2 linked regions of the Homo sapiens genome follow. The protein of the gene in region 1 interacts with the protein of each later gene in a pairwise test. Each region holds a gene or a part of one and is shown in the gene's direction. Other genes may lie near its edges.

Region 1 (3,540 bases):
GGGATGCACCTTGCTACTCAAGTGTCTTGGCTTCCAGGAATGGGCCAGTTTTAAGACACTCTACGAGACTAAAGGCTGCTATTTTAGGGCTCAAGTATAAAAAACTGAGGAAAGTGGTCACTATCTTTTTGCACAACAGCATCCTCAATTGGGTGTTAGGGAAGTGGGGATTTTTAAAGTTTAGGAAAATAGCATTCTTTAAATAGACATTCAGAATCTCAGGCAGGGCACCACGTATGTGGCAGTGGTGGAATTTTTTTAGCCATTTTGAGAGTAAAACAAGAGATGCAGTGGACCTTAGGAGACCTGGGGAAGAAGAGGAGAACATGGGGGTATGGAATGTGATTTTATTGGGTAGACTGACTTGTGTGCACACAGATGCACTTTTCTGAGGAATCCTAGGAGTAACAAGGAGACATTTTGCAAGGAGGAGATTAAGTCTTGTGCCATCAAACTAGTGAGGGCTCTGGTAAGAAAGAACTGGGAAATAAAAGTAAAAATAAATTGATTTAAAACTCATAGATCAGTGAAGCCAGAAAATACTAGAGAAACCTGAAAATACCTGTACACACACCTGTATACACACAAACACACACACACAAAATTTAAAATTCACAGACTAGTGAAGCCTATTACCTAAAAACTGTAGCCTTATAAAGAAAAGCTCAGTCCTCCTCAGAGAGTTACAAGGAAAGAGTAGCCATTTATTTAGGAATATATTTGACTTATGTGTATGCATGTAACCTTTTCTAGGAATCTGTACTTTCAACAGAGCCCAGACCCATGGCATAGGGTTAATGCCAATAAAAGTAGTTCAGTCTCTAGCTCAAAGATTAAGATTCCAATGCAAGGTTGCACTTATTCATGGTTAAATGAAGTAAAACCATTCACTGTTGTTAGGTGAACTCTTTAAACCTTCTTAAGACCCTAAGCTTCAGTATACGAACAGACTCATACACCTAGAGAAATCAAGTTGGTCTCTATTTGCACCTTGGATGACTCAGCATGAATCTATTCTTCAAGGATATGGCTTATTTAAAAACATCCCTCCGGTCCACCCCAGTTTTTGTCTATTCTTCTGTGATAGGTTTAAAACTACACCGTTTTTCTAAGGATGGGAAGGTAAGATGTTAGGTGAGTTATTGCTTATTTTAATTATTAATTTTAGACACCTAACACTGCCTATTAGCCTGGAAAATACTTTTACACTGACTAATATCAGTTCAATAAGATTTTTTCTCTAAATCATCTCAAGCTGTCTGAATCGTGAAAGAATATGAAAAGAAAAAAAATACAAATTCTGAAAACATAAGTAGTAGAAGAAATGTGTTCCTAAAGTAAGTTTAAAGCTATTATGAGGAAACTTTTCCTTAATCTTCACACTCCATACCATAGGGATTTTGAAGGTATAGTTTGAAGGAGATGTAATTTACCTCTTCCTTCATGAATAAATGAAGCATAGTTTGTCATTACTGCTAAAGTGCTGCTCAGGGGAGATAATGTAAGAAATAAAGCTCAGCCTTTGATAGCCTAATTACTTCTCAACTGTGGTGGTTATAGATGAGATTTTTCAGAAGATAAACTAACACACAAGAAAATAATTTTTTAATGATTAGTAAATTTTATATATATATCTCATTGGACTAAGTGTATTGCCAGCCATTTAATTAGGAATATATTTGACTATATTTTTAATGGCTTTCTGCAACATATTTCCACTCTAAATATATTAAAATGTGAATGTGGGAACACTTTTTAGAAAGATCAAGACGTTATAGTTAATATGGAAAAGCACTGGTAGAAAAATCACAAACTTTTATCATTTTAACTGGAGATATTTTCCCCTCCTAGAAGACTTTGAAATTGCTTCCTTTTAAAAAAATTTTTGAAAGCAGGAATTTGAGAACTTTAAAATAGTTCAAACAAGAAAGCAATGGTGAACAATTTCTCCCAAGCTGAGGCTGTGGAGCTGTGTTACAAGAACGTGAACGAATCCTGCATTAAAACTCCTTACTCGCCAGGTCCTCGATCTATCCTCTACGCCGTCCTTGGTTTTGGGGCTGTGCTGGCAGCGTTTGGAAACTTACTGGTCATGATTGCTATCCTTCACTTCAAACAACTGCACACACCTACAAACTTTCTGATTGCGTCGCTGGCCTGTGCTGACTTCTTGGTGGGAGTCACTGTGATGCCCTTCAGCACAGTGAGGTCTGTGGAGAGCTGTTGGTACTTTGGGGACAGTTACTGTAAATTCCATACATGTTTTGACACATCCTTCTGTTTTGCTTCTTTATTTCATTTATGCTGTATCTCTGTTGATAGATACATTGCTGTTACTGATCCTCTGACCTATCCAACCAAGTTTACTGTGTCAGTTTCAGGGATATGCATTGTTCTTTCCTGGTTCTTTTCTGTCACATACAGCTTTTCGATCTTTTACACGGGAGCCAACGAAGAAGGAATTGAGGAATTAGTAGTTGCTCTAACCTGTGTAGGAGGCTGCCAGGCTCCACTGAATCAAAACTGGGTCCTACTTTGTTTTCTTCTATTCTTTATACCCAATGTCGCCATGGTGTTTATATACAGTAAGATATTTTTGGTGGCCAAGCATCAGGCTAGGAAGATAGAAAGTACAGCCAGCCAAGCTCAGTCCTCCTCAGAGAGTTACAAGGAAAGAGTAGCAAAAAGAGAGAGAAAGGCTGCCAAAACCTTGGGAATTGCTATGGCAGCATTTCTTGTCTCTTGGCTACCATACCTCGTTGATGCAGTGATTGATGCTTATATGAATTTTATAACTCCTCCTTATGTTTATGAGATTTTAGTTTGGTGTGTTTATTATAATTCAGCTATGAACCCCTTGATTTATGCTTTCTTTTACCAATGGTTTGGGAAGGCAATAAAACTTATTGTAAGCGGCAAGGTCTTAAGGACTGATTCGTCAACAACTAATTTATTTTCTGAAGAAGTAGAGACAGATTAAAAACATTACTGTAGAGACCTCAAAACTAACTTGAAATTAAGGTCAACTGCAAAAATAAACACTTGGACATAGAGAGGCAAGCATGATCATATGCCAAGTTGTAGGACAATACATTCAACAGTTGTTCTAAAGCATTTGTTGTCTTCATGTATTTTGACATATTTTAGATTTAGTGATAAGTGAATAAGATTTGCTGATTCTTTTCCATTTAGCATTCTTTTATGGTTTTCTGGTTCCTTACTTTCTTCTCTGAGATTCCTACTCGTATCTTCAAATATTTTCAAGTTTTGTAGTTTCTCCCACACTCATGATCAGTGTTCAGCTGTCCAAAATACACAAAGGGGAAAGTAAAGCTCCTGCTTTACTTATAAGTTAGATTCTCTGAGGACAAAAATCTTTGACGTATATCTTGCTTGAGAAGTAGACACAGTATTATAAATTCTTGAAACTTTATTTTAATGTAAAAAGACTTTATAGAGAGCTGGAATGCAGAACTTTCTAGTGCTCAGAGATCATCTGAAAAATGCTTGAGCACTTTTATTTTCTGAACCCTGGCAGTT
Region 2 (3,750 bases), on another chromosome or scaffold:
TAGCAGCTGCACCATTTTATAGTCCCACCAAGAGTGCACAAGGGTTCCAATCTCCACATGCTTTTTTCTTTTCTTGAGACGGAGTCTTGCTCTGTCACCCAGGCTGGAGTGCAGTGGCACTGTCTCGGCTCACTGCAACCTCCAACTCCCAAGTTCAAGCAATTCTTCTGCCTCAGCCTCCCCAGTAGCTGGGATTACAGGTGTGCGCCACCATTCCCGGCTAATTTTTGTATTTTTAGTAGAAACAGGGTTTCACTATGTTTGCCAGGCTGGTCTCCAACTCCTGACCTCAAGTGATCCACTTTCCTTGGCCTCCCAAAGTGCTGGGATTACAGGCATGAGCCACTATGCCCAGCCCAAACTCTACATCCTTGCTAACACTGATTATTTTCTGGGTTTTTAAATAGTAACCATCCTAATGAGTGTGAGGTGATCTCTTACTAATCTACAGTATTGCTCAACTTTATTTTATCTATTTTATTTTATTTTATTTTATTTTATTTTATTTTATTTTATTTTATTTTTGAGACAGAGTTTCACTCTTATTGCCCAGGCTGGAGTGCAGTGGTGCGATCTTGGCTCACTGCAACCTCCACCTCTTGGGTTCAAGCGATTCTCCTGCCTCAGCCTCCCGAGTAGCTTGGGATTACAAGCATGTGCCACCACGACCAGCTAATTTTTGTATTTTCAGTAGAGACGGGGTTTCTCCATGTTGGTCAGGCTGGTCTCAAACTCCTGGCCTCAGGTGATCTGCCCGCCTCGGCCTCCCAAAGTGCTGGGATTATAGGTGTGAGCCGCTGCGCTCGGCCACTGCTCATCTTTAACGACAGAGTGTGGGTGTTGGAATTGCCTTGAAAGACCATCTGATCTGGTCCCTGAATTGAACATTTTTCAAGAGCTTGAGGCCCTTGTAACTTGTCTAAGGTGTCCAGCCGGTCTACGTGAGGAGGTGTACTGGGGAGATAAGCAGGGGGCCATCCCTGCTGTCTCCTGTAGGAGACCCAAGGCTCTTGGTCCAGTGCCCTTGCCAAACATAGTGCTTGGCCTCCCAGCCATGATACGCAGACCAACCCATATATATCCGCCTGGCCTCCTGCCTCCTCCTCCCTCTCCAAACCTGGAGGCTTTCCATTCTTAAAACAAATAAAAGAAACCACCTACCCTGTTAGGGCCAGGGAGGGAGACACAATCCTAAACCTTTTTGCAAGTCCTCAGTTTCAATTGCAAGTAAAGTAGCTTTCAAATAGCCAGTCCTGGTTCCTGCAGTCCTCTTAGCACTAACTAGTGGAATACTGTCTGAACCCCAGTTTACTCATTCACAAAATGAGAATAAAAATAGCCCCTACCTTACTGGGTTGTTAAGATGATTAAAAGAGAAAATACATGGAGAGCACTTAGCCTAGCACACAATCAGTCCTTAATAGATGTTAACCAAAGACATTGGTAGGAGAGCCAGGATTGATTGTCTTGGGACTAGAACTCAGGTCTCCTGACTCCCGGTCCAGGGCTCTTCCTACAGGAGTACACTTGCTTCTCCTAGCTGAGAGATTGAGGAAGGTGTGTGGGGGTAAGGCAGTGCACAGAGAAATAAAAAGCCTCTTGCAGGCCAGCATTCAGAGGTTTAGGGGCCACAGTCTTAATTCAGAGCCTGTTCAGAAGGAGAGTTGCTGTGGCTGAGGCCCAAAGCCCTTGGAGATAGAAACCAAACAAACTCTCTAATCTCCCCAGCCTCGGCCCCAGCCCTGTGGAGCCCAACTCTTCACAGCTGAGACAACAGAGAAACTGGACTGAAGGCAAAGGGGCCAGGGATTGCAATTTGAGGGGGGATTGCAAAGGATTTCTGGGGTGTCAGGCAGCCCAGGGCAGCTCAGCTGTGTGGGTCCCCATTACCCTTCCCCACCCACCTCCAGGAAAACAGAAAAGGTAGGGCCAGACTGAGAGTCTCCCAACCGGCAGAAACCCTCTCCATCTCCCTGGTTCTGGGTGGCAGGAAGGGGGGTTGTGTTGTTTGAAGAATCATGGGCTTGGTTTGGTTCCAAGGTTCTTGGAGGAAAGGTGGCTGGCGTGCTCACTCCCTGCTGATTCTATTTCCTCCTCGAGCCCCTGATCTCAGACTACCTGTTGAACCTCAATGCCCGCCCTTTGGGGCACTGAAATTCCTGGGTTCTGTTTTCACCTCGTAGCACTGGGAAGTCTTCCAGAAGGTGACAGAGGTCTTCATCCTAGTGCCTGCGCTGCTGGGGCTCAAAGGGAACCTGGAAATGACCCTGGCATCAAGGCTTTCCACTGCAGTGAGTATCCTGGCTGGGAGGAGTGGGGCACAGAGAGGACTCTGGGCAGCACAGAGCCAGAGACTGGGAGAGGGCTACGAGCCCTTCTCCACTGCCCAGGCCTGGAGTGTGGGGCTGGGGTGGGAAGGGAGGGCCTGGCTGGGCAGGTGTAGGGAGATCCCAGGCTGGGTGTCCTGCTCCTGGGCAGGGGCTCCCTGCCCAAAGTGGTTCCCAGGCTTGGTTTCTGGATGTCCCAGCCACCCCTGGACTCCTGCCCCACCCCCTACCTCTCAACCACCTCGTGACTGTTTGTGCAGCTTTGACAGGCAGGCATCATGCTGGTTCCTCCACCCGCACAGATGGGGGCCTCCTCTGATCTCCAGCCCCTGCTTTGCAGCTGGGCGGGAGCAGAGCCAGGCCCTCCCAGCACCCCCAGCCCCCCGGCCATCCCATTCCCTTTACCCATGGCAGCTTGCTCTTCTTTAAGGAAACAGACAGAGAGGAGCTGCTCGTCATTCCTACCTCCCACAGTTGTGAGCCGTGACGATTCCGGGCCTGAACAGATACAGGGCCCTGGGCTGGAGGTGGGAGATGATAAAACTCAGGAGGCCAGGGATCTCCCTGCAGGGTCAAGAGTCTAGAGAAGGTGACAGACAGAAGTGGCATCCAAGTTAACCCACCCTGACTTGCCATACCCGACTTCTGGCCCATGCCACCCACTCCTTCCCAAATACTCTTGGAGCCTCAGTCCTGCACCAGCAGCTGACCTTTCCTTCCCTGGGATCGCAGGCTGGCTTCAGAGTCAGGGACTGGGTTGTTCTGACCCATGCAGGAATGGGCTGCCCAGATAAGCAGGGCAAAGGATAGAATTTGCCTCTGCTCAGCTGGTGTCCTGAGAGGAAGAGAGGCGACTGCCTAGGGGACCCCCTTCCAACCCCCCACCCAGCTGCAGGAGCCCAGCTTTAGCTCCTTCCCTTTCACCTCAGTTTCCCTGATCCTGCTTCACCTTTCCGGGACTGTCAGGTCCTGCTCTCAGAGTCTTAGGCCACATGTACTGCCTCATGATCTAGGCAGGAGCCTAATGGATGGAGCTTCAGGCCTTTTCCAGCCTGAAGCTCCAGCCCCTTGCCCTCCCTTTCCCAGGCCAACATTGGACACATGGACACACCCAAGGAGCTCTGGCGGATGATCACTGGGAACATGGCCCTCATCCAGGTAAGAAGGCAGGGACCAGAGAGGGTGGGCTAAGCTTCCCCTTAGTCAGGAATCTCTGAAAGGCTTAGGTCAGCCCCAGCAGGCTCCTGAGTGAATCTCCAGTATCCCACTGAGCTGGCTTCCCCCAGAGTAGCTCTAGGAGGTAACTAGGTTACCCAGGAAAACGCCCAAGATGAGGAGGGCCCAGCATCACCCATTCTGGTTCTCAGTTCTTGGTGGTGCACGTGCCTTTGAGTCCCAGCAGATCCTGGCAATATGAGCAGAC

What was found.
Region 2: the proteins of TAAR9 (region 1) and SLC41A1 interact in binary tests that used the Homo sapiens proteins (3 or more experiments, as listed by UniProt).

Annotation. Positions count from the first base shown.
Region 1 is NC_000006.12:132,536,357-132,539,896, forward strand, and holds TAAR9 (trace amine-associated receptor 9), read left to right. Parts: upstream 1-1,920; 5' UTR 1,921-1,933; coding exon 1,934-2,980; downstream 2,981-3,540. UniProt on the Homo sapiens protein: Olfactory receptor specific for trace amines, such as N,N-dimethylcyclohexylamine (DMCHA) and beta-phenylethylamine (beta-PEA). In contrast to mouse and rat orthologs, not activated by triethylamine, cadaverine (CAD) or spermidine.
Region 2 is NC_000001.11:205,799,494-205,803,243, reverse strand, and holds part of SLC41A1 (solute carrier family 41 member 1), read left to right. Parts: intron 1-2,183; coding exon 2,184-2,291; intron 2,292-3,413; coding exon 3,414-3,485; intron 3,486-3,750. UniProt on the Homo sapiens protein: Na(+)/Mg(2+) ion exchanger that acts as a predominant Mg(2+) efflux system at the plasma membrane.